Linked DNA regions of Homo sapiens. The protein of the gene in region 1 interacts with the protein of each later gene in a pairwise test. Each region holds a gene or a part of one and is shown in the gene's direction. Other genes may lie near its edges.

Region 1 (3,235 bases):
GTATGAGAAGGAAGTACTTCCTCTGGCTGTATTGGTAGCAAGTCTCCTGGTAGATCATCCTTGCCAGTGGTACCAGCCTTGCCTGTTGTTGCGGAGGGGACTCCCCTTCAATACAGAACAGGAGTGAGCTTTGCTGGGCCTCCTCCTATTGCCAGGTTGGGTGTAGGGAAACAGCAGGCCTAGGTCACCTTCTTCTGTCGTGTGGAGGACTTAACATGCTCGCTCGGACACTTGGTTGATCCCTGATGCTAGGGTCCCAGACAATTTCATCTTTCTCTTTCCACCTTTCAGAGTTCTCCATTGCTTTTGTCTTTCATTAATCCCAGAGTTTATAGTTGTTTTTAGTAGGGAGTAGCAGAGAGAGACGAGTCTACACCACCTGGTCAGGATCACTGTTATTCCACCAAAACCAAATCAGATAAAAAAGTGAGGGCTTATCTAGTTAAAGAATGGTGTGGTACCCAGAAAACCCAATATGTAGCTTCCATGTCATTTATTTCTGAATCACAACCTCTAATTTCTCTTCTAAATCTCCAACTCTGAGAAATATAGCACAAAAATAGTTTGATTTAGTCACAGTATCTGGAGGAATGAATGCACAGTATCAGGAGACTTATTTAAATCCTTACTGTGTTTATTCAGTCAATTGGGGTAACTATTATAATGCAAGAATTAAAACTTCTTTATTAACATGAGAAGAATAAAAGTACTAAGTATAAACATTGACGGGTTCATTTATATCAAAATTATAAACATTTATGAAAGTTTTTGGCACTGCAAATAGTGGTTTTCAAATTTAATATATTGTTTTTGTAATGTTTTCATAATTATTATTTAAGTGAAAATTCTTTCTTTTCTTTTAGAAATTTCTGTCCATCATTTCACCATCCTCATGGATTGGTGTGTTTCGTAACAGCAGTCATCATCCATGGGTGACAATGAATGGTTTGGCTTTCAAACATGAGTAAGTTGTTTTGTATGGCGCTATATAACAATATATATATAAAGGATAAATTCAGAAGAATAATATGAATAAATCTATGTGGAATCATAGAGATGAAGAAAGATGTGGAAAGTTAGTGAAATGCTGACATAAATATTTTACAATAGACCATAGTAGTCCATATATTTCAACCGCTCATTGGTCAGCTAGTAACCTTCTTGATTATCAGGTGTCCAATCTTTGGCTTCTGTGGGCCACATTGGAAGAAGAAGAGTCTTGGGCCACACATAAAATACACTAACACTAACGATAGCTGACGAGCAAAAAAAAGAAAAAAAAAATCACAGAATGTTTTAAGAAAGTTTACGTATATGTATTGGGCCGCATTTGAAGCTGTCCTGGGTCACATGCGGCCCGTGGGCAGCGAGTTGGACAAGCTCGAGCTGGACTATCAGGGAATTGCAGTGCTTGTTTTTATTAAAAAGCCACACTTACTTTTTTTCTTAAGAATATCCTCAAAGCACAAGAGTAGTGCTGTTGGCATATTGCTATAATTTTGTTATTAGTAGTTATTGTTGTCAATCTCTTATTGTGCCTAATTTATAAATTAAATTTTATCACAGTTATGAATGTGTAGAGAAAACATAATCTCTCTATAGGTTCTGCACTATCTGCCGTTTCAGGCATCCACTGGAATCTTGAAACATATCCCTCGTGGATGAAGGGGGACTACTCTGTTGAGTGTTCAGAATAATGACTCTTACTAATATTATGAAAAATTTAATTACCCTTTTCCATGAAATTATTTTCTTACAGTACATGGAAAATGCTTTCGTCTCATGAATCATTTGCTTAAAATGTAACAGAATATGGATTTTTCTCCATTACAGGATAAAAGACTCAGATAATGCTGAACTTAACTGTGCAGTGCTACAAGTAAATCGACTTAAATCAGCCCAGTGTGGATCTTCAATAATATATCATTGTAAGCATAAGCTTTAGAGGTAAAGCGTTTGCATTTGCAGTGCATCAGATAAATTGTATATTTCTTAAAATAGAAATATATTATGATTGCATAAATCTTAAAATGAATTATGTTATTTGCTCTAATAAGAAAATTCTAAATCAATTATTGAAACAGGATACACACAATTACTAAAGTACAGACATCCTAGCATTTGTGTCGGGCTCATTTTGCTCAACATGGTATTTGTGGTTTTCAGCCTTTCTAAAAGTTGCATGTTATGTGAGTCAGCTTATAGGAAGTACCAAGAACAGTCAAACCCATGGAGACAGAAAGTAGAATAGTGGTTGCCAATGTCTGAGGGAGGTTGAAATAGGAGATGACCTCTAACTGATAGAACGTTACTTTGTGTCGTGATGAAAACTTTCTAAATTTCAGTAGTGGTGATGGTTGTAACTCTGCGAATATACTAAACATCATTGATTTTTAATCATTTTAAGTGCATGAAATGTATGCTTTGTACACGACACTTCAATAAAGCTATCCAGAAAAAAAAAAAAAGCCTCTCCTGGGATTATTTGTGACTGCATTTATTCTCTAAAGTAATTTTTAAAGATTAGCTTCTTTATAATATTGACTTTTCTAATCAATATAAAGTGTTTCCTTCAATGTACTGTGTTATCTTTAATTTCTCTCTATTGTATTTTGTATTTTGGGGGATTGAAGTCATACAGAAATGTAGGTATTTTACATTTATGCTTTTGTAAATGGCATCCTGATTCTAAAATTCCCTTTAGTAATTTTTGTTGTTATAAATAGAAATACAACTGATGTCTGCATTTTGATTTTATATCTACTTATTCCACTGATTTTATATATGTAAATCTATTATGTCAACTATTGATTTATTTCTGGGTGTTCTATATAACGAGCAATTTTATCTGCACATGATCACACTTTTATTTTTTTAATCTATATGCTATAACGTAGTTTTATTTTCATTTATTTTCACTGGCTAGGGTTTTATACCCATAGTTGAATAGAAGGTACAATCAAAGTTCTGTGTGTATCATATGTATCGTTTTCTGATTTTGGCAAAAAATACTTAAACATATTATTCATATTTACAAAGCTTGGTGTTGTTTTCATCCTATCTTTCTCATATCGAAGCAGTTTTATAATATTCCTATTTTCTAATAGATTTTATCAATTGTAACATTTTTATTAATTTGTAGCAGTTGGAATGATATATGTTGTATTTATATAACATTTTATAAACTACTTTTATTTTTTCAAATGTTAAACCAGCCTTTGTTTCTGAAATAAAT
Region 2 (4,292 bases), on another chromosome or scaffold:
CTCCTCTCTCTCTCTCTCTGTCACACACACGCACACGCGCACACACACACACACAGATACACGCGCACACACACACACCGTTTTGCCTGGCAGAACAGACTTATAACTTGCATAATACTGCAGCAGCCCACACTGTACCTCATCTCCATTTGGGTTCCACAACAGAAGGGAGCTGGAAGGAAATCAGCGACAATCTAACTCCACATGACAACCTGGCTGGACAACGAAACATCCAGCGGGGAGAAAGACACTGGAAATTACCCATACCTGAGCCCCATCCCAAAACACCTGAGTCAGCTTCTCTGACCATGGCCCAGGCTAGGTCATTTGCAAAGCTCTTGAGTGATTCTAAAGAACCACTGCTGTGAAAAATAAAAATGATTTCAGCAAAGAGAGAAAGGTGAAACTATTTTATTGGCACTGGCTGTGATGCTGGCTGTGAGCAGATGCTGGCTGTGGGCAGAACAGGGGAGAGGGCCATTGAGAGGCCCTTGTGACTGGAGAGTCCAATCAAACGTAAAGTGTGTGACAGGGAGGGACTCCTCCAAATTCTGCAGGTCTCTCCAGACTGGGGATCCCTAACACAAGAGGAAGTCTTATGCCCCAAGTGCCAGAATTCCAGGAAACTCATGCAATGAAACCAGTCCTCTTGTGTCAGAGTTTGCAGCTAGAAGCGGTTCAAGGGATGGAGGACTCTCTGGGAGCTGGAGTGGTACGCTGCAAAGAACCTAAATATGCCATAACTTCCTTTACTTCCCTCTCCAAGAATTTCCAATTGCTCTTCCAGCCTATTCTGCCTGACAGGTTAGAAAGTTTTCAATAGTTTTCAATAGAGGTTCGTTTACTTGCATTGAATTATCTCATGAAGGTCAGCTTGATTCGGGCACATTAAAGACAGAGTCGGAAGAACACATTTCCCTAAGTTTTATTCTAATGTACAACACATGTGATCATTTGCGATGGGGTCTAGGCAGACAAGGCAGGTAACAGGGAGTCCTTCCAACCAGGGGTTGGAACAAAGGAGGCTTGATTTGGTGACTCTTGAGACATTTGGCTCACTGCTGTGATGCTGTGAGAGATTAGCTGTGCAATGTTTGGGCTCCTTAAAAGGAAGTTTATTTAAAATAAAACTTACCTGCACGTATGTAACACTGTAGACACAGATCCTTCCCACAGTATATTTAATCTCTGCAGAATTCACTGGGAGGGGAGGGGAGCCAGTGGGACCTCTTGGCTATTACACAGGTTGGCACTTCCAGAGAGAACAGTCTTGGCATCACAGGCTTCAGGCATACTCAAAGCTCTTCTCCCTTCTGATTCCAGTTTCTCCATGCCCTGCAGGGCCTCTTGGGATTATTGTATTCTGGAAAGCAAACAAAGTTGGACACTGTCTCTTTAAATAATAGAGGCTGAGAACCTCTCAGGCCACCATGACATATCCCAGCATTGGACCAGCCCCTGAATAAACTGGAAAGACGCCTGGTCTGGCTTCAGTTACAGGGAGCACCACCAGGGAACATCTCGGGGAGCCTGGTTGGAAGCTGCAGGCTTAGTCTGTCGGCTGCGGGTCTCTGACTGCCCTGTGGGGAGGGTCTTGCCTTAACATCCCTTGCATTTGGCTGCAAAGAAATCTGCTTGGAAGAAGGGGTTACGCTGTTTGGCCGGGTGAGTTTTATTGGCAAACTGTGCCTCTGGGTGATGTGTGCCTATGCTTTACAAGAATTGCCTAATTTCCCACCCCCTGCAAGCCGCAAATGAAAAGGATTGCAGGAGAGATGGTGCATTTGTGTTGGAATTGACTGGAGATTCAGAGGGCTTTTTATATCCTTGGTTAAAAGGTGGATATATACTCTGGCTGGGGAGGTGGGGGGCCATCTGAGAGCATCTAGAAACCCTAATGCATCCAGATTGAAAGGAAGAAAGGAATCTAGATGCTTTTTCCCCCATGGAAAATAGCTGTGCACACACAGCTGGCAGGTGGCCTTGGTAAGCAGGTTAGGGAGAAGCTGCCACCTGTGGCAGAGCCTTGGCCAGCCGGGCTCTGGGTGTGGCAAGCCTGGTCAGCAGGCACTGAGTAGCACTTCCTCTGCCACCATTGAGAACCAGGCAGGAGGCCAGAGGCAGTGAGGGACAGATGGGTTGGGTTTACCTGTCTGGCAGTATATGGTGTGGCTGTGACCTGGGTGGTTATTGATTAAACTATTGGGTTCAAAAGAAAGGAAGAAGCGAGCTGTAGCACCCAATATATGCACTTTTCTGTATGTGTATTAGACTTTATTAAAAAGTTTATTTGAAAATCACAAAGGAAGGGAAAGAAAACCCTGAGTTAGATATGCTCATATTTCTAAAGTGCTTACTTAGAACAGTCCTGAGTATGTTGTGATCACATAAGTGTTGGTTAAATAAATAAATGTCCAAATGGCATAAAACAAAGTAATAATTTCTAGAGCAAATCTAACTTATAAAATGACCTGTGGAGGAAAGAAAACACTGCCATGTCTTTAGACTTTTTTTTCTACTTGCATATGCACTTTCATTTATAAATCTTTATCTATCTATCTATATCTATCTATCTATCTATCTATCTACCTACCTACCTACCTACCTATCAGAGTTACAAGCTACTTTAGTGCAGAGGTGGTCAGGTCTTCCCTGAAAGGTTGATGTGAGAGTTAAATGTGATATAATAATAGTGGTGGCAATTTGGGCACTGGGCCCTTATTATGTTGCAGACACGATGTTAACTGCTTTGTACATATTGTCTCCTTCAATCACCACCATAAACCTTTAAAGCAGGCATTACTATTTCCTTTTGCACCTGAGAAAACTGAAGCTCAGTGAACTTGAGAAATTGCCCAAATTCACAACAAAAGTAAGCAGGGTGATTAGGTTTGTTGGAGCCCAGAGCCAGAGTGCCTAACCACTGCACCATACTGCCTCTCACAGACCATGCATATAAAGTCCAGGCAAAGTGCTTGGCATATAACGGGCACTGTAAATGCAGTGTTTACAAGTACACTTCATTTTAATCTGATAACACGATAGTTTTAAAAAGATCATTGTTTGAAGATCTTTTTCAAATTTATTTTTACTTACCGTAAGAATATACAATTAGCTAAAATAGCAGCTCCTTTCAAATCGTAAAATAATATAGAATTATTTGAATCATTGAGAGTGATGAGCTTCTATGACACAGTACACTAGAGGTAGGGAAGTGTGTGTGTGTGTGTGTGTGCGCGCGCGTGCGTGAACTGCTGCATTTTCAGGCAGAAACCTTTAACATCCACATTCCTGCTCCCTGTCCCGTGCCTCAAGGCTGGCCTGCGCACGGGAGTCTCAGTTGGGCGCGCCTCTGCCAAGCCGAGACTGAAGGGGGCTAGCCTCTCTCCCTGTAACGCTGGGCGGGCCACGTTAGGAGGCTATGAATCAGCTGATTTCCTTGGCTGCTCCAACCCCACCTCAAATGGCCACCTCGCACCCGCCCGCCAAACCCCATGGCCAGGACTCCAGCCAAGGCTGACAGCCAAGCCCGACTGCTGCAGGAACACTTTGCCTAGAGCTTATTCGGTGGTAGTCTGGTTTTGCCTAGGCTAGGAGGAGCCCAATCCCAGACCATGCTATCCAGTAGTCGGCCGGACTTTTCTTCCCCTAATTCGCACCCAAGAGGAGCCCGCTAGATCAATCCCCGCCAATCCTAGGAAGCTGGCATGCTTCGTAGGTGCAGACAGTAATAGCGGGGACCGGCGCGGGGCAGGTGTGTCCGGCTAAGACGCCAGGACAGGGCAGGGGCTCCAGGACCCGAGAGGAGAGGGACTTCTTCCAGCGCTCAAGCGCCCGCTGCCCTCTATTAGTGGGAAAGGAATCCAGCCTCAGCCCCGCGCGGGCGCGGTCGGCGTCGGCGGGCCCAGAAGCCCAGCCCTGGGCATCCGCTGAGCTACATTTGGCTGGGTCTTCCCAGAGTGGGCTGAGGAGCCAGTTTCTCGGTCAACACTAGGTCTCCACGGGGCCAGGGGAGAAGGGAGGTGGGAGGTGAGAAAGCTCAGCCGCCTCTGGTTTCGAGTAAAAGTCGCCGCGGTTTTGCAGGGACCGACTTTTTCTTGAGGCGCATTTAAGGCCAAGTGACTGTCTCCTGCCCTCCCTCTCTCCTGCCCCCTCTCCTCCCTGAGTCCCGCCCTCCCGCACACGCTGACCCAGGGACACACCCTACTGCAGCGACGCAAACAGGGCGTTGTTCCCGTTAAAGGGGAACGCCAGGAGCCTCCCACTGCCCCCTTGCTTCGCGCGCGCGCAGC
Region 3 (4,310 bases), on another chromosome or scaffold:
TAGGGAGATAAAAATAAATGGAAATTCAGAACTGGAAAGAAACATCAGAACGCACAATGTAAACGTGGAGTGCCTGAAAATGTGTCACCTAACGGGACACCTAACGGGAAAAACAAAAACTCTAGTTCTCAGGACTGGGAGACGCCAACCTTCAGTGACTAAGAGAGGCAGGTGAACCAGCAAAGGAACTAGTTCCATCAGGGTGGGTATTCAGCAGGAACCTTGGAGCAATTGCAGAGGAATGAGTATGCTCAGAAGTTCTGTAGCTTTCATAATGTTCAATTCTTCATGTAAAACTACTAAAGATCATGACTTGACACTGTTGATACCATACAGTTGTGAACAACAGTTCTCAGAAAAGGAATTTGGAGTAAAGAATTTATTCCAGTTAACGGTTTGCAAACCAGGGAAACACAGCCTCCGGTGTAAAAGGAAGGTGTATTCCAGAGAAGAAAGGGAAGGCTCAGATTTTATAGCAAAAGTTCCCACCCAGGTTTCCAGTCAGGTCTGTTTGGGTAAATAAAGGATTCAAATTCACTTAGTTCTGATTGGTGGATACAGCTGAACCCTGATTAGCTGGTACAGCTGAGCCCCGATTGGTCATTACAGCTGAGCCCTGATTGGCTGAGGCAGATCTCAAAGATAAAAAGGTGTGGGTTTTCAAGGAACTCAGAAGATGCGTGTGACCCCCTAGTCAGTAAATGGCCACTTGGCCCTACTTTAAATTTAGAGCCAGTTAACCACTCAGGACCCATCTTGAAGGACGGGCTCTTTCAGGGTCACATTTGTTCTCATAGTATATTGAACTATAATCTTATATAGAATTAAGAGTTGCCTTCCCCAAACACAAGCAATTAATGTCTCCAAGCCTGTGGGTATAAGGAGTTTATAAAATCTACCTCATGTCTTTGTCATGCACATTGAACAAGATGACGATGTAAAATGTTTGGCCCATGACTGCACTTAGTAAATGTTGATTATCCTCAATTCATATGCAGGGATTACTATCCCCATTGTACTGATGAAGAAATTGAGGCTTGAGAAGTCACATGACTTTCCCAAGACTGTCAAAATATAACAGCAATAACCACAGCTGCCATTTTTGAGAACTGACTTTCCCAGGCACTATTTGAGCTACTCTATTATGTTATGTCATTTCATCTTCACAGCTGGTACTGCTGGCAAACATAGAGAAAACAAATATGAATTAAGATTTCACTAACTTATTTTGCCATACTCATAAGGCAAATTAATATTTTAATAAAACGTTGTGCAACGTGAGAATTATGTGTCCTTCATACATGGGGATAAGCCAGGGTCTACCTTGCTAAGTCACTGGGGCCTGTGTGCATCAGTTCACATCAGATCCCAGAGCTTCAAGCTCAATGCAACTTAAATTGACAGCCAGGGCATATTTTGATTTTGTGTCCACTCTAAGGAACAGAGGCTTGTTGGTCAACTGACAAGCATGAATCTGGGGGCCATGAGTTCATCTCAGAAAGTCTCCCGCTGTTTGAAATCCCCACGCTTGCTGTCTTGCCCTCACCCCTGTCTGTCGAAGCCTTCGTGGTAAGCAAGCTTGGACTTCATGAAAGTGAGTCTAACTCTGACATTGAAATAGTGGCTGTGTCTTGTCTCCCCAGTCTTCCCACACCTGGTGAAGGAGCTCAACGCAGGCCTTCATGTGATGATTCTGCTGCTCCTCTTCCTGGCCTTGGCCCTGGCTCTGGTCAGCATGGGCTTTGCCATTCTTAACATGATCCAGGTCCCGTACCGGGCAGTCAGCGGTCCTGGGGGCATCTGCCTATGGAATGTCCTGGCAGGTAAGAAGTCCCTTAGGGAGAGAAAATTATGTCCACACCATCATAGGGCTGGGCTCCAAGTAGTTGGGCAGAAGGTGTGAAGGAACTAAAATGCCCCACTGGAGCCTTGACCTTCCTGGGTCTAAGACCTTCTTGATGGGCATGGAATGAATGTCCTCTTTTTCTTTTTCTTTTTTTTTTTTTTTCTTTGAGACAGGGTCTCACTTTGTCACCCAGACTGAAGTGCAGTGGTGCGATCTCAGTTCACTGCAGCCTTGACCTCCTGGGCTCAAGTGATCTTCCCACCTCAGGCCCCCAAGTAGCTGGGAGTACAGGCGTGCACCACCATGCCCAGCTAATTTTTTGTATTTTTTATAGAGACAGGTTTCACCATGTTGCCCAGGCTAGTCTCAAACTCCTAAGCTCAAGGGATCCACCTGTCTTAGCCTCCCAAAGTGCTCAAGAATTTCCTCTTTAAGTTGCAGAGTCTGTCACAACAAAGAAGCATCTTATTAGAGTACGTGAATGGCTGAGGGCTTAGAGCAGTGAAGAGAGATCGAGGTGAAAGAAGAAGCCAGAAGACAGAGAGCTGGAAGTAGGGAGAGGTGGGGGCCCTGAGATGGGAAAGAGATGGAGCTGGTGCTGCAGCTAAGGCTGGGAGGAACTCCACAAATGACAGAAGAGAAGGGTAGTGTGAGCAAGAGGCCATTCGTGAAAGGCTCCTCCATTCAGGCTCTGGGTTGAGAAGGGGAAGTGAGTGCCATCTAGTTGCCAAGGTCTTTGGTGTTCCCCCCACACACACACTTGGGCATATTAATGCAGACGTGGCTCACTGGCTGTCTCAACTCTCCCTCCTCTCACCTCCCCAACACCTTCACTGCACCATGCCCTTAAACTAGATGCAACTTACTGAGCAACCACTAAGGGCTGGGCAGGGACCTGGAGATTTTGCATGCATTGCTTCATTTAAATCTCACCACATCCCTATGGGAGGTATTATTAGACCCACAATTACAGATGAAGAGCCTGAGGCTCAGAGAAGTTAAACAGTCGCACCACAATGAGTGGCAGAGGTGGTATTCCAACCTAGGTGTAACTGATTCTAAGCTCTTTATTTTTCCACAGATCCATGCTCTCATTTATGACCATCATGACCTGTTTTCCAAGCCAAAAACTACAAGATGTGTGTGTGTGTGTGTGTGTGTGTGTGTGTGCGCGCGCATGTTGATTTGGGAGTATATTGATGCACAGAAATTAATTCACATTTAATTATGCACTTAACAAATCATCTGTAATGAAAATAACAGAATCTTGTGAAATGAGGGCTGTCACAGAAAACTCAGGTCAAATATTCAAGGTACCATTAGAACAATAATCCCTCGCTATGATTACCTTATACAAGAATAATATAAAAACAGGTAATGTTATTTTATTATGTATTATAATGTATATCAATCAATCAATTATTATGTATTTGCCTTTGTTTGCAGATGGTAGCCACCCTGTAGAATTGTTTACATACATGGCTTACCCTCATCAAGACTACAGGTGTCTTCCTCATCTGCATGAATCCTCACAGAGGCTGTCATGTAAAAAGTGCTCAACGCTGCTTATTAAATAAATATTTATCTCTGTCCATTCCTTTCCTTAGAGAGATAGCACTCTCAGACTCTACTGATGAGAGTATTAGCAACAGGCAAAAAAGCCTGGGCAACACAGCAAGACCCCATTTCTAAAAAAAAAAAAAAATTAGCTGTCCATGGTGTCCGGTGCCTGTAGTCTCAGCTGCTTGAGAGCTATAATCCCAACACTTAGGGAGGCTGAGGTGGGAGGATTGCTTGAGCCTGGGAGGTCCAGGCTGCAGTGAACCGTGATCATGCCACTGCACTCCAGCCTCAGCCAACAGAGCGAAACCTTGTCTCAAAAAATAAAAAATAAAAACAGGCAAAGCTTTATGTCTTTTGACAAAACTTTATTTCTTGCCACTGAGCTTAAAAAAACAACAACACTGTAGTGTCAGAAGGCAGAAAAAGGTGAATAGCCTTTGAATATCTTTTGACTAAACAATTCCATGTTTGAATTTATGCTAAGGAAATACTGGACAAGAGAACAAGGATGTACATAAAATGGTATTTGCTGTAGCACTTTATAATATCAAAAAATTAGAAGTAATCTAGACATCCAGAAATAAGGTCATACTTACATAAATTATAGTGTGTGACCTTATTTCTATAATTTAGTAGAGACTGTTTAGTCTCTACTAAAAATACTTACATAAATTATAGTGTGTAGTGCATAAAATACTATGCACTCATTTATAGTCATGCTGTAAGCCTGGCACGGTGGCTCACGCCTGTAATCCCAGCACTTGGGGATGCTGAGGCAGCAGGATTGCTTGAGCTCAGGAGTTCAAGACCAGCCTGGGCAACATAGTGAGACCTCATCTCCACAAACAAACAAACCAACAAAAATCAAAAATTAGCCAAGCATGGTGGCATGCACCCATGA
Region 4 (4,916 bases), on another chromosome or scaffold:
CAAGGTTGCCTGGTGAGGATTAAAGGTGGTTCCGGCCAGGCGCGGTGGCTCACGCCTGTAATCCCAACACTTTCGGAGGCCCAGGCGGACGGATCACGAGGTCAGGAGATGGAAACCATCCCGGCTAACACGGTGAAACCCCGTCTGTACTAAAAATACAAAAAATTAGTCGGGCGTGGTGGCGGGCGCCTGTAATCCTAGCTACTCAGGAGGCTGAGGCAGGAGAATTGCTTGAACCTGGGAGGTGGAGGTTGCAATGAGCCTAGATCTCGCCGCTGCACTCCAGCCTGGGCGACAGAGCGAGACTCCAAAAAAAAAAAAAAAAAAAAAAAAAAAGGTGGTTCCGCGTGACTGAACAGGTTCTGTAGGGCCTTTGGGAATAGTGACACGCAGGGTACATTGTGCATAATATAACTTCAGGACTAAGTGCTAGGAAGAAAATAAAACTGGACCGGGCGCAGTGGCTCACGCCTGTAATCCCAGCATTTTGGGAGGCCGAAGCAGTCGGATCATGAAGTCAGGAGTTCAAGACCAGCCTGACCAACATGGTGAAACCCTGTCTCTACTAAAAATACAAAACTTAGGTGGGTGTGATGGCACGCGCCTTTAATCCCAGCTACTCAGGAGGCTGAGGTAAGATAATTGCTTGAACCAGGGAGGCAGAGGTTGCAGTGAGCCGAGATCGCCCCACTGCACTCCAGCCTGGGCAACAGAGCGAGACTCTGTCTCAAAGAAAAGAAAACTGGGTGATGTGGAAAAGAATGTACACAGAAGGCCTCACTGAAGGGGTGGCATTTGAGTTCGCTGACAAGACGGGGCTGGCCACAGGGCTATCTGGGAGCAGAGCATTCCAGGAGGGAACAGCCACCACCAAGCCCCTGAGGTGGTAACAAGCTTGTTGACTTTGAGGAACATCAGGGAGGCCAGTGTGAGACAACGGAGTGACAGGTTTGAGGTGTGTAGGAAGTAGAGCCCACAGTCTTGCTTTGCCCCCACTGGGAAGGAAGGGCACAGGGATCCAACCACAGAGGGAAAGCTGGAAGCTGGACCACCTCCTCCTTTCAAGGTAAGCAGTGATGCGCATCCTTACACAACCTTATGGGACCTGTCTGCCCTTGTGGAGATGGGAGCAGGGGAAGACCAAAACCGTGGATTGTGCTAAATGCTCCAGATGTTGTTCTCAGTGTACACTGCCAGGGAGGAGCCACTGTTATTCCGACTTTACACATGAGCAAACTGAGTTCAGAGAGGGGAGACCCTTTACCTAAGGTTGCAAGCTTAGTAACAAATGAACCAGCCTCCAACCTAGGTCCACCCACTGGCCAGCATGGGTGCTGTTGGTGTATCTGCCCACTTGTGAAGCTATCAGAGCCCTCATGGCATTGGGATTCAGTTGTCCATCACCCTCTATAAGACACACACAACAATAGCATTGTGTGCTAGCAGGTCATGCAGTGGAGGCTGCTGTGTTTGCTGGGAGGAGAGATGACTGGGCTGTGGGTAGGAGTCTGCAGGGGTAGAGGGGTGGCCAAATAGAGATGCACAGGCTTCCTTTGTCTGTCTTGGCTGCCACATGGGGCCTTGCTGAGCCTGGAGTGGCCATTCTGGATGTATGGGGGAGGTGTGCTTCCCCTTGAAGGTCCCTGGGCACCTGGACTAGTGGAGGCAGGCTCCTGGCTGGCTCCCTCACCAGGTAGATAGTTCAGGCTGGCCCACGTGGATCACTCTGCCCCTTCCCATGGCTGAGGGCTGCCCCCTCTAAATATAGCCCAGTGGGCTGAGCTCAGGCCTATTTTAGGCCAAGGCTGGGAGGCAGCCAGGCCTTCCCTGGGCTCACAAAGGAGCCACTGCTGCATTTGTCCAGTCCTGCTACTGGATGCCATCATTGGCCCCCGACTGCCCACTGCTTGCCATGCCTGAGGAGACCCAAGAAGGTAGGAGAGGGTGACCATGAGGGAGGGCAAGGCCTCAGTCCTGTGACCTTGTGGACCATGGAGAGACCCACCCTCTGTCCCACTGACCTCACTGTCTTGAGTAGTTAGTTACCCATTTTCATGCTCCAGCTCCAGTAAAAGGACCTGCCCCCTGTGCAGGGAGGAAAAGCCTGCCATGCCTGGAGCCCCTTGTCACCTCAGGCCCTGCTTCAGTTTCCCCTGCTGGGGACATCAAGGAGGGATGGGAGAAGCTACCCAGTTAGGAGTGGGTCAACTACAGGCTGTGCTCAGGTGGGTGTGGGCATCCGGTCAGCTGCCTGGCCGGTTCAGCTCTTAAGGAAGGAAGCTGGGATTGGGGTGGGTAGTGGTTCCAGAAAGCATTTGGGTACCTGTCCCATGGACTGAAAAGTAGTTAGGCCTCTGGCCTCCCCTGACTTGGGTCTAAATATCCCCAACTGCCTAGGGTTGGGGGTCCCTTGGCCTGGTCAGACAGAGACTCAGCTAGTCAAGAGCTTGGTGGCCACTCACCTAACTGCACCACTGCATATAAGAAGTACTGATGCTCAGAGGGGCCAGGGCAGCAGGAATCTAGGAAGCTACAGGTCCAGTACTGGCCAGGACGTAGGACTGTCTGCTCCATGGCTCCATGTTATGGCCCATGACAGAGCATGGCCCAGCTAGCAAGCTCCTCTTATCACATTTTCAACTTTTTTTTTTTTTTTGAGATGGAATCTCGCTCTGTCACCCAGGCCGGAGTACAGTGGCGTGATCTCGGCTCACTGCAACCTCCGCCTCCCAGATTCAAGCAATTCTCTGCCTCAGCCTCCCAAGTAGCTGGGATTACAGGCGCCTGCCACCATGCCTAGCTAATTTTTGTATTTTTAGTAGAGACGGGGGTTCACCATCTTGGCCAGGCTGGTCTTGAACTCCTGACCTCGTAAGCCACCCACCTCAGCCTCCCAAAGTGTTGGGATTACAGGGGTGAGCCACCGCGCCTGGCCTCAACTTTTTTTTTTTTTGTCACCCAGGCTGGAGTGCAGTGGTGCGGTCTCGGCTCACTGCAACCTCTGCCTCCCAGATTCAAGCTATTCTCCTGTCTCAGGCTCCCAAGTAGCTGGGATTACAGGCATGTGCTACCATGCCCGGCTAATTTTTGTATTTTTAGTAGAGACAAGGTTTCACCGTGTTGGCCAGGCTGGTCTCAAACTCCTGACCTCAGGTGATCCACCCACCTTGGCCTCCCAAATTGTTGGGATTACAGGCGTGAGCCACTGCCAACATTTTCAACATTGCAGGAGAGGGGCCTTGCCCCTGGTAGGGGGAAATGTTTACTTTCATGCATGTGTGTGTGTAGAGAAGGGTCTCCCTGGTCTTGAACTCCTGGCCTCAACCAATCCAATCCTCCCACCTTGGCCTTTCTTTTCTTTTTTTTTTTTTTTTGAGATGGAGTCTCGCTCTGTCGCCCAGGCTGGAGTGCAGTGGCGCGATCTCAGCTCACTGCAAGCTCCGCCTTCCGGGTTCACGCCATTCTCCTGCCTCAGCCTCCTGAGTAGCTGGGACTACAGGAGCCCGCCACTACGCCTGGCTAATTTTTTGTATTTTTAGTAGAGATGGGGTTTCACTGTGTTAGCCGGCATGGTCTCGATCTTCTGACCTCGTGATCCACCCACTTCGGCCTCCCAAAGTGCTGGGATTACAGGTGTGAGCTACCGCGCCCGGCCAGCCACCTTGGCCTTTCAAAGTGCTGGGATTAGAGGCATAAGCCACTGTGCCTACCCTCTTTTGGGATCTTAACAATAACATTTACTGTGTGTTTTTCCTGTAATAAACAATTCACATTCAATTTAGAAAGTGTGAGAAAAGCACAACAAAGTACAAAGAGGGAAATTTTTTTTTTTTTTTGAGACAGAGTCTTGCTCTGTCGCCCAGGCTGGAGTGCAGTGGCACGATCTTGGCTCATTGCAAGCTCTGCCTCCCGGGTTCATGCCATTCTCCTGCCTCAGCCTCCCGAGTAGCTGGGACTACAGGCGCCAGCCACCATGCCCAGCTAATTTTTGTTTTGAATTTTTTAGTAGAGACGGGGTTTCACTGTGTTAGCCAGGATGGTCTCGATCTCCTGACCTCGTGACCTGCCCACCTCGGCCTTCCAAAGTGCTGGGATTACAGGCATGGGCCACTGCGCCCGGCCCTTTTTTTTTTTTTTTTTTCTGAGACGGAGTCTTGCTCTGTCGCCCCGGGTGGAGTGCAGTGGCACGATCTCTGCTCACTGCAACCTCTGCCTCCCAGGTTCAAGTGATTCTCCTGTCTCAGCCTCCCAAGTAGCTGGGACTACAGGCGCCTGCCACCATACCTGGCTAATTTTTAAATATTTTTGGTAGAGACGGGGTTTCACCATATTGGCCAGGCTGGTCTCAAACTCCTGACCTTGTGATCCACTTGCCTTGGCCTCCCAAAGTGCTGGGATTATAGGTGTGAGCCACTGCGCCCGGCAGCAGGGAATTTTTTTTTTTTTTTTTTTTTTTTTGGAGATAGGGTCTCACTCTGTTGCCCAGGCTGGAGTACAATGGCATGATCACAGCTCACTGCAGCCTTGACTTCCTGGACTCAAGCAACCCTCCCACCTCAGCCTCCTGAGAAGCTGGGACCACAGAAGCATGCCACCACACCAAACTAATCTTTAATTACTTTTTTGTTTTTTGAGACGAGGTCTAGCTCTGTCGCCCAGGCTGGAGTGCAGTGGCTTGAGCTTGGATCACTGCAAGCTCCGCCTCCTGGGTTCAAGCTATTCTCCTGCCTTCAGCCTCCTGAGTAGCTGGGACTACAGGCGCCCATCACCATGCCCGGCTAATTTTTTGTATTTTTAGTACAGATGGGGTTTCACCATGTTGACCAGGCTGATCTTGAACTCCTGACCTCGTGATCCGCCCACCTCAGCCTCCCAAAGTGCTGGGATTACAGGTGTGAGCCACCATGCCCGGCCCT
Region 5 (4,310 bases), on another chromosome or scaffold:
CAGTTTATTAAGCTGTTGACCTCAACTTCATACCACCCTCTGCTTTGTGAATCTAGGGCAGAACTCTAAACTACATTTCTTCTTTGCAAGCTGACTGCCCATTGGGCTTTGCCAACAAGGGAGGGAGACTGGAAAGCTGGAAGAGGATGAAGGGACTTGCTGCTTCCTGTTGATTCCTTTTCTTGTCTGTCACTTGCCACAATAGTGCCTCACTCTGGCATTAATAGTTGGTCCCACTTGTTCCAGTTTATGCTTTCCTACTCTGCTAGAATCAGCCTTATGCACTTCCTTAAAGATACCAGTATCCTTTCCTCAGATCTGAGTCCTGAGCTCCATAGAGTCTCTCCTCCACATTTCTAAACTATAGTAAATTCTCTTTATTCTCTTTTCTCTGTTCCCTTGTCCTAGGAGTGATAGCTGCTTCCTGCTGTTACTACTTCTTATCACATAAGTAGGACTCAGTGTCCTCTTTTTGCCTTTTCAGTTCTTCAACATATGGTTAACATTTTTCATATGAAAATTTCTCTTGATGTTGATGCTGACAACTTTAAAAATCAAGTCCAATCTCTCTGTTAAAATAACGGATGCATTTTCAGACTCCTGCCTGGACCCTGACTGATAAAGAAATTGTCACTAAGAATGGGATCCTGGTGAGAAAACTTTCAAAGATAGAATTTGGGGGCATCGGTTTGGTAATTTCTTTAGCTCTTTGCCAATGGGAAATAATCTAGTAACCCACAACATGTAGTGGCATCACAATCAAATTGATACATTTGGTTGATTGTGATAAAATTATTTCTGAAGCTGTGTGCTGGAGGACCAAGTGGCTAAAGCGCTTGACTGTTAATGGCAGTAATGATGACTACAGGGACTGAGGGAGAAGTGAGAAGTGAGATAGGTGCTTCTTTGTTCACTGGAGCACTGACAGAAAGCAAATGACAAACTCAGGTCTTCAAAGCGTTAGATCGGTCAAGTCTTAGAGAATCAAAAAGTTTCCATGGTTCTAAAGCACTTCATTTTGTGTAGCCACGGAAAGACTTGCTAAAAATTGGACACAGTTTTATGTTATGTTATGTTATGTTATGTTATGTTATGTTATGTTATGTTATGTAATGTTATGTTATGTTATGTTATTTTTGAGACAGAGTCTTGCTCTGTTGTCCGAGCTGGAGTGCAGTGGCATGATTTTGGCTCACTGCCTATAATTCCAGCACTTTGGGAGGCTGAGGCAGGAAGACTGTTTGAGCCCAGAAGTTCAAGACCAACATGGGAAATATGGCAAAACTCGGTCTCTACAAAAAATAGAAAAATTAGCCAGGCATGGTGGCAGGTGCCTGAACACAGTTTTAACTGCGATAGTAATAGAATTACCTAGCCTTTGTCAGTGTCTCATTTAGAATATTGTTTGGAAAGAAGTAGAACCCTGAGACTTGGAATGGGGACATCTAGGTAGACATGGACAGAGCTGAGAATCTTGAAAAAAACTCCAGTCACTCTGAGCCTCCATTGTTGACAGAAGCTGCTTACTTTTGAAAATTAGCCTTCTCTTGCTTGAAGATCCTGTAATAACCTCACCTAGGGTAGTTTCTTTGCAAAGGGCTATCCACACTTAAGAGCTACCTCTATTATCTTGTCATGAGGCCCAGATCTCTGCATGTTGCCTAGTATAGGGACAAAATCTGATCTGACTAGAAATAGTCTGTCCTTGAAAAGAATTGCAAAATTTTGCTAATTTATATCTGTGGAATCCTGAGGAATATATGTGAGGATGGATTGTAAGCCGGAGAATAGAATGTAACACTAGATCAGATCATATTTATTCATCTGGGTATATTCTCAAGAAATTCTGCATCTAAAGCGTTAACTCATACTTGTTTGTTTGATGGAAACTTGGACTCATTGGTGGCCTGTATTTTATAACGTTGAGATTTCTGTTGTTGTTGTTTTTAAACATTTAGGTTCAGAGGTACATGTGAAGGTTTGTTACATAGGTAAACTCGTGTCATGGGTTTGTTGTACAGATTATTTCATCACCCAGGTATTAATCCCAGTACTCAATAGTTATCTTTTCTGCTCCTGTTCTTCCTCCTAACTTCCACCCTCAGGTGGATCCCAGTATCTGTTGTTCCCTTCTTTGGGCTCATGAGTTCTCATCATTTAGCTCCCACTTATAAGTGAGAACATGCTGTATTTGGTCTTCTCTTCCAGGAGATGGAACAGAAATGTTGAGTGCCTTCTAATTTCCTTGTAAGTACTGCTTTATCAGCATTCCCCCACATTTTGACACATATGTCTTCATTTTTATTCAGGTCATAATTTAAAATAATTTCCCTTTTGATTTTTTTCTTGACCTCTAAGTTATTTAGAAGTTTGTTATTGAGTTTCCAAATATTTGGAAATTTTAAAGATATCTCTGTTACTGATTTATAATTTGATTCCATTGTGGTTAGCATACTTTTTATGATTTGACATCTTGTAAATTTATTGAGACTTGTTTTATAATCCAAATATATTCTCTCTTTGGTAAATGTCCTAATGCACTTAAAAATAATATATATTCTGCTATTATTGGGTGAGTTTTTTGTTTTTTTTTTTTTTTTTGAGACAGAGTCTCGCTCTGTCACCAGGCTGGAGTGCAGTGGTATGATCTCGGCTCACTGCAACCTCCGCCTCCTGGATTCAAGCAATTCTCCTGCCTCAGCCTCCAGAGTAGCTGGGACTACAGGTGTGCACTACCATGCCCAACTAATTTTTTTTTTTAATTTTTAGTAGAGATGGGGTTTCATCATGTTGGCCAGGATGGTCTCGATCGCTTGACCTCATGATCTGCCCGCGATGACCTCCCGAAGTGCTGGGATTACAGGTGTGAGTCACCGCGCCCGGCCGGGTGAGATGTTTTATAAGTGTCAATTAAGTCAAATTGGTTGATAGTGTTATTCAAGTTTTTGATGTCCTTACTGATTTTCTATATATTGGAGCTATCAGTTATTGAAGTTGTGGGGAGTATTAGAATTTCTGACTATAATTGTGGATTTATCTATTTCTCTTGGCAGTTGTATCAGTTTTTGCTTTATATTTTGAAGTTCTATTAATAGGTACATAAACATTTAGGATTATTTTGTGTGCATGATGAATTGACCCTTATATCACTATGAAATGGACCTCTTTGATCCTGGTAATAGTCTTTGCTCTGAGATCTACTTTGTCTGGTATTAATGTAGCTACTTCAGCTTTCTTTTGATTAGTGTTAGCATATACATCTTTTTTTCATCCTTTTACTTGTAAACTCTTTTTGTCTTTTTATTTAAAGTGGGTTTCTTGTATGCACCATATAGCTAGGTCTTATGTTTTTATCCAATCTGATAATCTTTGCCTTTTAACTAGGGAGTTTAAAACATTTACATTTAATGTGATTATTGATATTGTTAGATTTAATTCCACCATCTTGCTATTCGTTTTTTGTTTGTTTTGTCTGTTCTTTGTTTCTTTTCCCCTCTTTTATTTTACTAGTCTGTTTTTTGTTTCTTTTTCCCCTTTGTTCAGCCATCATTTACATTAGTTAAATAATTTATGTGATTCCATTTTATCTCCTTTGTTGGTTTATTAGCAATAACTTTTTTTAGTGGTTGCTTGAAAGTTTATAATGTATCTCTAACTTATCACCATCTACCTTCAGGTAATATTTTAAAGAGATATAAGAAAAGCATTATAATTCCTCACGTAGTTACCATTTCACTGCTATTTATTTCTTTGTATCAATCCAGATTTTTATTTGGTATCATTTTTCTTCTTCCCAAGGCATACTTTAATTTTTCTTGTTGTGCAAGTCTGTTGGTGATGAATTCTTTTAGCTTTTGTTATGTTTGAAAAAGTCTTTATTTTGCTTTGGAAAAATATAGGTATAGAATTCTAGATTGACAAGATTTTTTTCCTGTTAGTTCTTTAAAGATATTCTGCCTTCCATTGCTTCTTATTAATATTAAAAAGCTACTGACATTCTTATCTTTGTTCCTCTATGTGTAGTATATCTTTTTTTCCTTTTCTTTGGCTACCGTAGCATATCTTCTTTCTTTTTCTTAGGATTTTCTCTATATTACTGGTTTTAAGCAATTTGATTATTATGTGCCTTAGGTAATTTTCCTTGTTTCTTGTGCTTGGAGCTCATTGAGATTCTTGGGTCTGTAGGTTTTTATAGTTTTCAACATGTTGGGGAAGGTTTTCGCCATTATGTGTTCAAATACTTTATCTGTCCTCTGCAAACTTCAGTGATATGTTAAGACTTCAGTTACATGGCTGACTAAAAGTTGGCT
Region 6 (4,310 bases), on another chromosome or scaffold:
TTTAAAAAGTGTATATGCCAATACTGCTTGAGCCAAAAGACACATTCACAAGCTAGATTTGGCTGAGAGTCCCTCTGTTCATGACCTCTGCATTAACCCCTTGAATTTTCTAACAATCGGACCTGACTTTACCGTGACTCAGCGGGGCCAGCCTTCCTTCCCCATTTTCCTCTTGGTTCCCTCCTAACTTCACCTGAACTTGTAACTAGAGACAGAAAAGAGACACCCTGCAAAGGGAAACATACTCCACACTAGCTAATGAAGCCCCTTCTTTTATGCTTTTATCTTCCAGATATTTGGGTTCTTGGTCTGGACCATGGTAGCCGCCACCCACATAGTATACCCCTTGCTGCAAGGATGGGTGATGTATGTCTCGCTCACCTCGTTTCTCATCTCCTTGATGTTCCTGTTGTCTTACTTGTTTGGATTTTACAAAAGATTTGAATCCTGGAGAGTTCTGGTAAGAACCAGCAGCATGGCTCTTCCTGGGTGGACGTTCTGGGTTGGGTGAGGACAATTGGCCTTTCTGGGCAGGGAGGGATCCTGGGCTAGGCTCCTATGGAACCAAGACTTTTTATCTTACCATTTTTACTACCACGCTAAAATGAAGACATTTATCTGCAAGCGTAAATAATTCCTGGTATTCCCCTTCACTGGCTTCCCTGTTAGGAGAATACACAATGACCTGTGATCAAGCATATTCTGATGTGTTTCCCCTAAATTTTCTTCCTGGTAAAATCCTTGGAGCAACACTGAAGAAAAAGCTAGTAGGAAAAAAATCACTCCATTCTCAAGGCCCTAACACAATCCCTGCGACAGGGTATTTCTTCCATATCCCACATGAATTATATGCAAAGTATATATACATATATACGTATATACATATGTATATATGTATATATATGTATATATATACTTTAATTGTACTCTACAAATAATTTTGGATGTAGATGCTTTCATTTAATATTACATCACTAATTTTTATTTATCACGTCATCTCAAAAAACCATTTAAAACTGTTCCACACTGAACAATTGAAGACATATTTAAAAGTACAGAATATTGTATTATAGGCCCTCATGTAGCCATAACCCAGATTCCAGCATTATCAAGACCTTACCACATTTGTTTCATCTAGCCTTTGTCCCCACTAAGGAATTTTAAAGCAAACACCAAACATCATGCCATTCTATTCCACACACTTCAGTATGTTTCCAAAAAAACTCCGCAAACTTTCTCACATTATCACATGTATACGAAGTAAACAATTCCTCAGCATACCTAAGACAGTATACAGTGGTCCCCCATCTCCGGAGGATAAGTCCCAAGACCCCTAGGGGATGCCTGAATCCTCAGAGAGTACTGAACTCCGAATTTGCTATGCATGCACTTCTTTTTTCTTCTTCACAATTTCACAGATAGACAATTCATTCTTACTGTAGATCTTAACAACCTCAGCATATTTTTTTTCTTTCCTTATTAAGCTGAAAACTTATACTTTTTAACTTAAAGAAAGCACCCTATGACTTCTCTTTGGCATATCCAAATTGCCAGCATCACTACTCTTGCAATTTGGGGCCATTATGAAGTAAAATAAGGATTCTTTGAATGCAAGCACTGCAGTGCCACAACAGTTGATCTGATAGCCCAGATGAGTACAAAGCGACTAACATGGGTGGCACAGACAGTGTAGACATGCTAGACAAATGTCTGATTCACATCCCAGGTGGAACAGGGCGGGACAGTGCAAGATTTCATCATTGTACTCAGAAAGGCACACATTTAATTGTTAATTTCTGGAATTTTTCATTTAATATTTCAGACCAAGATTGACTTTGCGTAACTGAAATATACTGATCTTTATTAGTCTGCCATTGCTTACGACATAGATATTACATTAAAAACACTGTGTATTAGTCTATTCTCACATTGCTATAAACAACCAGAGACTGGGTAAATTATAAAGAAAAGAGGTTGAATTGACTAGTTCCTCATGGTTAGGGAGGCCTCAGGAAACTTACAATCATGGTGGAAGGTGAAGGCTAAGCAAGGCATGCCTTGCATGGCAGCAGGAGAGATGGGGGAGGGGGAAGTGCCATACTTTTAAACCATCAGATCCCATGAGAACTCATTCACTATCATGAGAACAGCATAGGGGAAACTGCCCCCATGATCCAATCACCTCCCACCAGGTCCCTCCCTTGATACATGTGGATTACAATAGGAGATGAGATTTGGGTGGGGACAAAGAGCCAAACCATATCATTATACCACTGGCCCCTCCCAAATCTCATCCTTCTCACATTTAAAAATACAATCATGCCTTCTCAACAGTCCCCCAAAGTTTCAACTTATTCCAGCATTAACCCAAAAGTTTAAGTCCAAAGTCTCATCTAAGACAAGAGAAGTCTCTTCTGCCTATGAGCCTGTAAAATCAAAAAGCAAGTTAGTTACTTCCAAGACACAATAAGGGTACAGGCATTGGGTAAATGCTCCCATTCCAAATGGGAGAAATTGGTCAAAACAAAGGGGCTACAGGCCCCATGCAAGTCCTAAACCCAGCTGGGCAGCCATTAAATGTCGACATTCCAAAATCTCCTTTGACTTCATGTCTCAGATTCAAGTCACCCTGTTACAAAGGGTGGGCACCCAAGACCTTGGGCAGCTCCACCTCTGTGGCTCTTCACAGTACAGCCCCTGCAGCTGCTTTCACAAACTGGCATTGAGTGTCTGTGCTTTTTCAAGGTGACCAGTGCAAACTGTCAGTGAACCTACCATTCTGGGGTCTACAGGACAGCTCTTCTCACAGCTGTACTAGCCAGTGTCACAGTGGGGACTCTCTGTGGGGGGTCTGACCCCACATGTCCCTTCTGCACTGCCCTAGTAGAGGTTCTTCATAAGGGCTCCACCCCTGCAGCAGACTCTGCCTGTACATCCAGTCATTTCCATACATCCTCTGAAATCATGGCAGAGGTTCCTAAACCTCAATTCTTGCCTTCTGCATGCCTGTAGGTCCAACACCATGTGTAAGCTGCCAAGGCTTGAGGCTTACACACTCTGAAGCAATGGCCCAAGCTGTACCTTGGCCCCCAGCTGCTGGAGCTGGGGCAGCCGGGTTGCAGAGTGCTGTGTTCCAGGACTGTGCAGAGCAACAGGGCCCTGAGCCTGGCCCACAAAACCATTTTTCCCTCCTAGGTCTCTGAGCCTGTGATGGGAGGGGCTACTGTGAAGATCTCTGAAATGCCCTGGAGATATCGTCCCCTTTGTCTTGGGGACCCTCATTACTCATGAAAATTTCTGCAGCTGACAGCTTGAATTTCTCCCCAGAAAATATGTTTTTCTTTTCTAACACATGATCAGGCTGCAAATTTTCCAAACTTTTATGTTCTGCTTCCCTTTTAAACATAAGTTCCAATTTTGGACCATCTCTTTGTGAATGCATATGATTGTACACTTTCAGGAAAAGTCAGGTCACATCTTGAATGCTTCAATGCTTAGAAATTTCTTCTGCCAGATACCCCAAATCATCTCTTTTAAGTTCAGAGTGCCACAGATCTCTAGGACAGGGGTAAAATGCCACCAGTCTCTTTGCTAAAGCATAGCAAGAGTGACCTTTATTCCAGTTCCCAATAAGTTCCTCATCTCCATCTGAGACCACCTCAGCCTGGATTTCATTGTCCATATCACCATCAGCATTTTGGTCAGAATCATTCAACAAGTCTCTAGAAAGTTCCAAACTTTCCTACATCTTCCTGTCTTCTTCTGGGTACCCCAAACTGTTCCAACCTTTGCCCATTATCCAGTTCCAAAGTTGCTTCCACATTTTCAGGTATCTTTATAGCAGTGCCTGACTCCTGGTACCAATTTTCTGTATTAGTCTGTTCTCACACTGCTGTAAAGAACTACCTGAGGCTGGGTAATTTATAAGGAAAAGAGGTTTAATTGGCTCACAGTTCTGCATGGCTAGGGAGGTCTCAGGAATCTTACAATCATGGTGGAAGGCGAAGGGGAAGCAAGGCACACCTTACATGGCAGCAGGAGTGAGAGAGGGAAGTGTCACACTTTTAAACCATCAGATCTTATGAGAACTCCCTCACTATCACGAGAACAGCATGGGGAAACTGCCCCCATAATCCAGTCATCTCCCACCAGGTCCCTCCCCCAACATGTGGGGATTACAATTCGAGATGAGATTTGGGCAGGGACACAGAGCCAAACCAAATCACACTGCAAAAAAAAAAAAAAAAGGCAGGACTCTAGGGGGCTGGCCTGCCTCATTTGCTCATTCTTTACTGCTATGTAGCCAGAGA
Region 7 (4,310 bases), on another chromosome or scaffold:
TTACCACTTACAATAATTATTAATCCATTTAATATTTCATTAAATACCTATGGCCATAATTTCTACTCTTGGTTTTACAACCTCTGAAGAGGTCTCTCCAATTACCTCAGAGTACTATAATGTGCTATAATTTCTTAATCTAATCAATGTTAAATGCCTGTGGTCATGATTTCTAGTTTTGGTTTTGTCATACCTGAAGACATCTCTCCATATGTCTTAACGTGTATCATAAAAATATTGAAAGTTTTCCATTTTAAATCATTTAGATCAGTATGTATAACACAAGACCCTATTATTTTCAGAGCCAGAAAAAATAGTCACTATGGAGTACTATAATCAGCTGGCCGATAAACACCAATTACTTACAGACTGTAGAATTTTAACTATTCTAACTCCTCATTTTTTTTGTTTGTTTGTTTTTTGTTTTTTGAGATGGAGTGTTGCTCTTTCACCCAGGCTGGAGTGCAGTGGCGCGATCTCGGCTCACTGCAACTTCTGCCTTCCGGGTTCACGCCATTCTTCTGCCTCAGCCTCCCGAGTAGCTGGGACTACAGGCGCCCACCACCACGCCGGGCTAAGTTTTTGTATTTTTAGTAGAGACAGGGTTTCACTGTGTCACCCAGGATGGTCTCGATCTCCTGACCTCGTGATCCGCCCGCCTCGGCCTCCCAAAGTGCAGGGATTACAGGCGTGAGCCACCGCGCCTGGCCTCTAACTCCTCATATTTTCTACTGAATTTGGTTTTTGCTCTTAGGTTCTTCCTAAGTATTTACTTTCAGAAACAATGGTGGTTTCTATTTATTGAGCCCTTATTATATTTGGCACTTGCTAAGTGAATGTTATGTGTATTATTTCTTTTAACCCTTTCAAACAACCCTTACAAGGTCAGTAGTCTTATAGTCCCTATTTGCAGATGAGGAAACAGGTTGGTTGAGAGGGATCTCTGTTGCTTTTAACTCTTGTATGGTGTGGGATCTAGTCAGCTGTCACGGTGTACAAATAAAGGGTGTAAGTCCTCCATTTTGCCACAGTGAGGCACCAAAAGCAAAGTAACCACATATTTATGAGCTGGTGAAACTGAAGTTGTTTCCACAACTTTAAAGGGCCAAGATTAGGCATTCTTGGGCTGGAAATTCAAATCCCCATAAGGAAGAGAGGCTGCCCACCTTGGTCAAACATTAAGGTAGGCTTTCTGTAGTGCTGTTTTTCAGAGCTGTCTGTTTCCATTTTACTCCATGTCAGCATCCACCCAGTTTCCCAAAGGAGACAGAGTTGGTCCCAGAGAGTCCCTCACATGTGACTGATTTGGGCAGGCTTGTGGGGTGGGGGATAGTGGTATTTGAAGTGGTTCATTCTTGTTCATGGTGCCCATTCTCCCCAGGATGCCACCTTGCTGTTTGTAGTTGATTGTAGCATCAATTCTAACTCCCTAAAAAGAGGAAGAGGTTTTTTGTTTTTTCAACAGATTTTACCAGTTGTTAAAGGCTATACTCTGGGAGCACAAAAATGCCCCTCAGTTGTATACAGTATACAGTTGTTTAATATACAGAAAAGCCTTGGACTGGGAGTCAGCACACTTGCATTCCAGAACTAGTGCTGCCATACATTTGCTGTTCCAATGACTGTGGGGCAGGCACTCAGTTTCTCCAGGGTCTAGTGTCCTCAGTGGTAAAGGCAGGAAGTTAGACTAGATGATCGCTGAGGTACATCCTAGCTCTAGCATTCATTGGTTTCATAATTCTGAGCCTAAAGAATTTTTAAAAAGCTGCTATTGATCCCTCTCAGTTGGGTAGAGATCAGTCTCTTGAATTATCTGCCTCCCTGGCTTTATCATCACAAGAAATGATTTCAAAGGTTTCTGTTTTGTTTTGTTTTAAATCTTAGAAGTCCAGAAAGGATCTCATAAATGTAGTGAAGTTCTGTAAAAGTATGTTGTTATAGAGCACTTATAAGAGGAAATGTGTTTTATGAAATCAGGTAGGAAATGGAATATTCTAGCACACAGAAGTTAGTGAAAGGAGAGAGGTTCTGTGGTCTTCTTCTCCCCCTTTCATTTATGTAGTTACATTCCTGGAATCATTCTAGAATTTGCCTCTTGAGAATGCGGATTTTCATACCCATTAACAAAGGAAGAATAAAGGAGGAGAATTTATGACTAAACACAGTTGTAGAAAAGTCTAGGAAAGGAAGGAGCTAGGAAGGGAATGTACATATGTGTACAGTACTGCTTCTTACTGTCTGGCTTGGATCAGGAGTGAGCATGCCTGAGTTTGGAGATGTGCTGACTCAGAGCAGTGATGATGCTCAGCACTTTTGGGACAGCTTATTACAAAATAATACAATACTGCTCCATGGAAGTAGCCGTTTTTGACTGTCGGTATTATTTCAGTACTGGTAGCTAAGAACACATCCCCCTCAGGAACAGTAATAGCTGCCTTGGTGCTCATTTCAGTTACATCATAGATGGTCAAGAGTCATACCATTTGCCATGGTGAACCTTCCTCTACCTTTTTTTAAACAACAAACAGCCATGGGTTTTGTGAGTGGTATGGAGAAAATTGTCTGAAGTATCTTGTGTATATTAAGGGGGTGGCACACAACAATGAATGAGACATAGTAAAGGGTGTGTTGTCATTTGCCCTTTCAGGCAGTAGCCACATCTAAGGAGGTTTATAGTTCTAGGATCTATGGCACAGTAAAAATGACAAAATAAATTTCCATGTTTCAGAGGAACTTGGTCTCAAGTTGAGATTATAGAATATACGCATCCAAAATGATTTATGGTCACTTAAAAAGTGGGATACAAGGACAGGTGTGGTGGCTCACACCTGTAGTCCCAACACTTTGGTAGGCTGAGGTCGAGGATTGCCTGAGCCCAGGAGTCAAGACCAGCTTAGGCAACATAGTGAGGCCCCATCTCTACCAAAAAAAAAATTAGCTGTGTGTGGTAACCTGCACCTGTAGTCTCAGTTACTTGGGAGGATGAGGCAGGAGAATTGCTTGAGCAGGTGGGAGGATTGCTTCAGCCTGGGAGGTCGAGGCTGCAGTGAGCCGTAATCATGCCACTTCACTCCAGCCTGAGTGAGACTGTCTCAAAAAAAAAAAAAAAAAAAGATATAACTGACATTAGATGCTGTTGTGATTAACAAAATGTAAATCCATATAAAGCATTACAGTGACATTACATCTTATGTAGGATTGGGTTCAAAAGTCAGGGCTTGGCCGGGTGCACTAGCTCACACCTGTTATCCCAGCACTTTGGGAGGCCGAGATGGGTGGACCACACAAGGCCAGCCTGGCCAACATGGTTAAACCCCCTCTCTACCAAAAAATAGAAAAATTATCTGGTTGTGGTGGTGCACTCCTGTAACCCCACCACTCAGGAGGCTGAGGCATGAGAATCACTTGAACCCAGGAGTTGGAGTTTGCAGTGAGCTGAGATGACGCCACGGCACTCCAGCCTGGGCAACAGAGTGAGACACAGTCTCAAAAAAAGCCAGGTCTTAAGATGAAAATCAGAGTAGACAAATCATCTAAGAAAATCTCAGGACAGCAACTGAATACCCACATGCCATTTCTCCATAAGCCCGGCTCATCTGTTCTCTTTTGCAGCGGAAAGGCTGAGGTGGATGGATCACTTGAGGTCAGGAGTTTGAGACCAGACTGGCCAACATGGCAAAACCCTGTCTTTATTAAAAATGTAAAAAAATTAGCCGGGCATGGTGGTGGGTGCCTGTAACCCCAGCTGCTCGGGAGGCTGAGGCAAGAGAATCGCTTGAACCTGGGAGGTGGAGGTTGCAGTGAACCGAGACCGAGCCACTGCACTCCAGCCTGGGAGACAGAGCAAGACTCTGTCTCAAGAAAAAAAAAAAAATTGCTCTTTAGTTGGTGGAAGTGCTGCTGGCTTGTGTTTAGGAGTCACATTGAAAAATACATAGCTTTAAAAGGCCATATCCCCATACGTGCAACAGCATAGATGAACCTTGACTTTGTGCTAAGTGAAATAAGCTAAACACAAAGGACAAATATTGTATGATTCCACTTAATGGTGTACCTGGAGTAGTGAAATTCATAGAATGGGGAGGTATTTGATGGGTACGGAATTTCAGTTTGAGAGGATAAACAAGTTCTGGAGAACAGTTAGTGGTGATGGCTCCACAACGGTGTGAATGTACCTAGCCACTAAGCTATACCCTCACAAATGGTCAAAATGGTAAATTTTATATTACATGTATTTTGCCAGCCTAGGTGACCAGTGAGACTCTGTCTTGAAACAAACAAACAAACATTGTAAATGATGGTAACTTTAT

What was found.
Region 2: the proteins of KLRC1 (region 1) and PMP22 interact in binary tests that used the Homo sapiens proteins (3 or more experiments, as listed by UniProt).
Region 3: the proteins of KLRC1 (region 1) and CLRN2 interact in binary tests that used the Homo sapiens proteins (3 or more experiments, as listed by UniProt).
Region 4: the proteins of KLRC1 (region 1) and LSMEM2 interact in binary tests that used the Homo sapiens proteins (3 or more experiments, as listed by UniProt).
Region 5: the proteins of KLRC1 (region 1) and CGRRF1 interact in binary tests that used the Homo sapiens proteins (3 or more experiments, as listed by UniProt).
Region 6: the proteins of KLRC1 (region 1) and MALL interact in binary tests that used the Homo sapiens proteins (3 or more experiments, as listed by UniProt).
Region 7: the proteins of KLRC1 (region 1) and VTI1B interact in binary tests that used the Homo sapiens proteins (3 or more experiments, as listed by UniProt).

Annotation. Positions count from the first base shown.
Region 1 is NC_000012.12:10,445,261-10,448,495, reverse strand, and holds the end of KLRC1 (NKG2-A/NKG2-B type II integral membrane protein), read left to right. Parts: intron 1-863; coding exon 864-964; intron 965-1,833; coding exon 1,834-1,945; 3' UTR 1,946-2,468; downstream 2,469-3,235. UniProt on the Homo sapiens protein: Immune inhibitory receptor involved in self-nonself discrimination.
Region 2 is NC_000017.11:15,262,527-15,266,818, reverse strand, and holds the start of PMP22 (peripheral myelin protein 22), read left to right. Parts: upstream 1-1,492; 5' UTR 1,493-1,665; intron 1,666-4,266; exon of another isoform or gene 4,267-4,292. UniProt on the Homo sapiens protein: Might be involved in growth regulation, and in myelinization in the peripheral nervous system.
Region 3 is NC_000004.12:17,521,221-17,525,530, forward strand, and holds part of CLRN2 (clarin-2), read left to right. Parts: intron 1-1,643; coding exon 1,644-1,823; intron 1,824-4,310. UniProt on the Homo sapiens protein: Plays a key role to hearing function. Required for normal organization and maintenance of the stereocilia bundle and for mechano-electrical transduction.
Region 4 is NC_000003.12:50,277,238-50,282,153, forward strand, and holds the start of LSMEM2 (leucine-rich single-pass membrane protein 2), read left to right. Parts: upstream 1-1,849; 5' UTR 1,850-1,876; coding exon 1,877-1,934; intron 1,935-4,916.
Region 5 is NC_000014.9:54,512,507-54,516,816, forward strand, and holds part of CGRRF1 (cell growth regulator with RING finger domain protein 1), read left to right. Parts: intron 1-4,310. UniProt on the Homo sapiens protein: Able to inhibit growth in several cell lines.
Region 6 is NC_000002.12:110,087,753-110,092,062, reverse strand, and holds part of MALL (MAL-like protein), read left to right. Parts: intron 1-292; coding exon 293-460; intron 461-4,310.
Region 7 is NC_000014.9:67,664,063-67,668,372, reverse strand, and holds part of VTI1B (vesicle transport through interaction with t-SNAREs homolog 1B), read left to right. Parts: intron 1-4,310. UniProt on the Homo sapiens protein: V-SNARE that mediates vesicle transport pathways through interactions with t-SNAREs on the target membrane. These interactions are proposed to mediate aspects of the specificity of vesicle trafficking and to promote fusion of the lipid bilayers.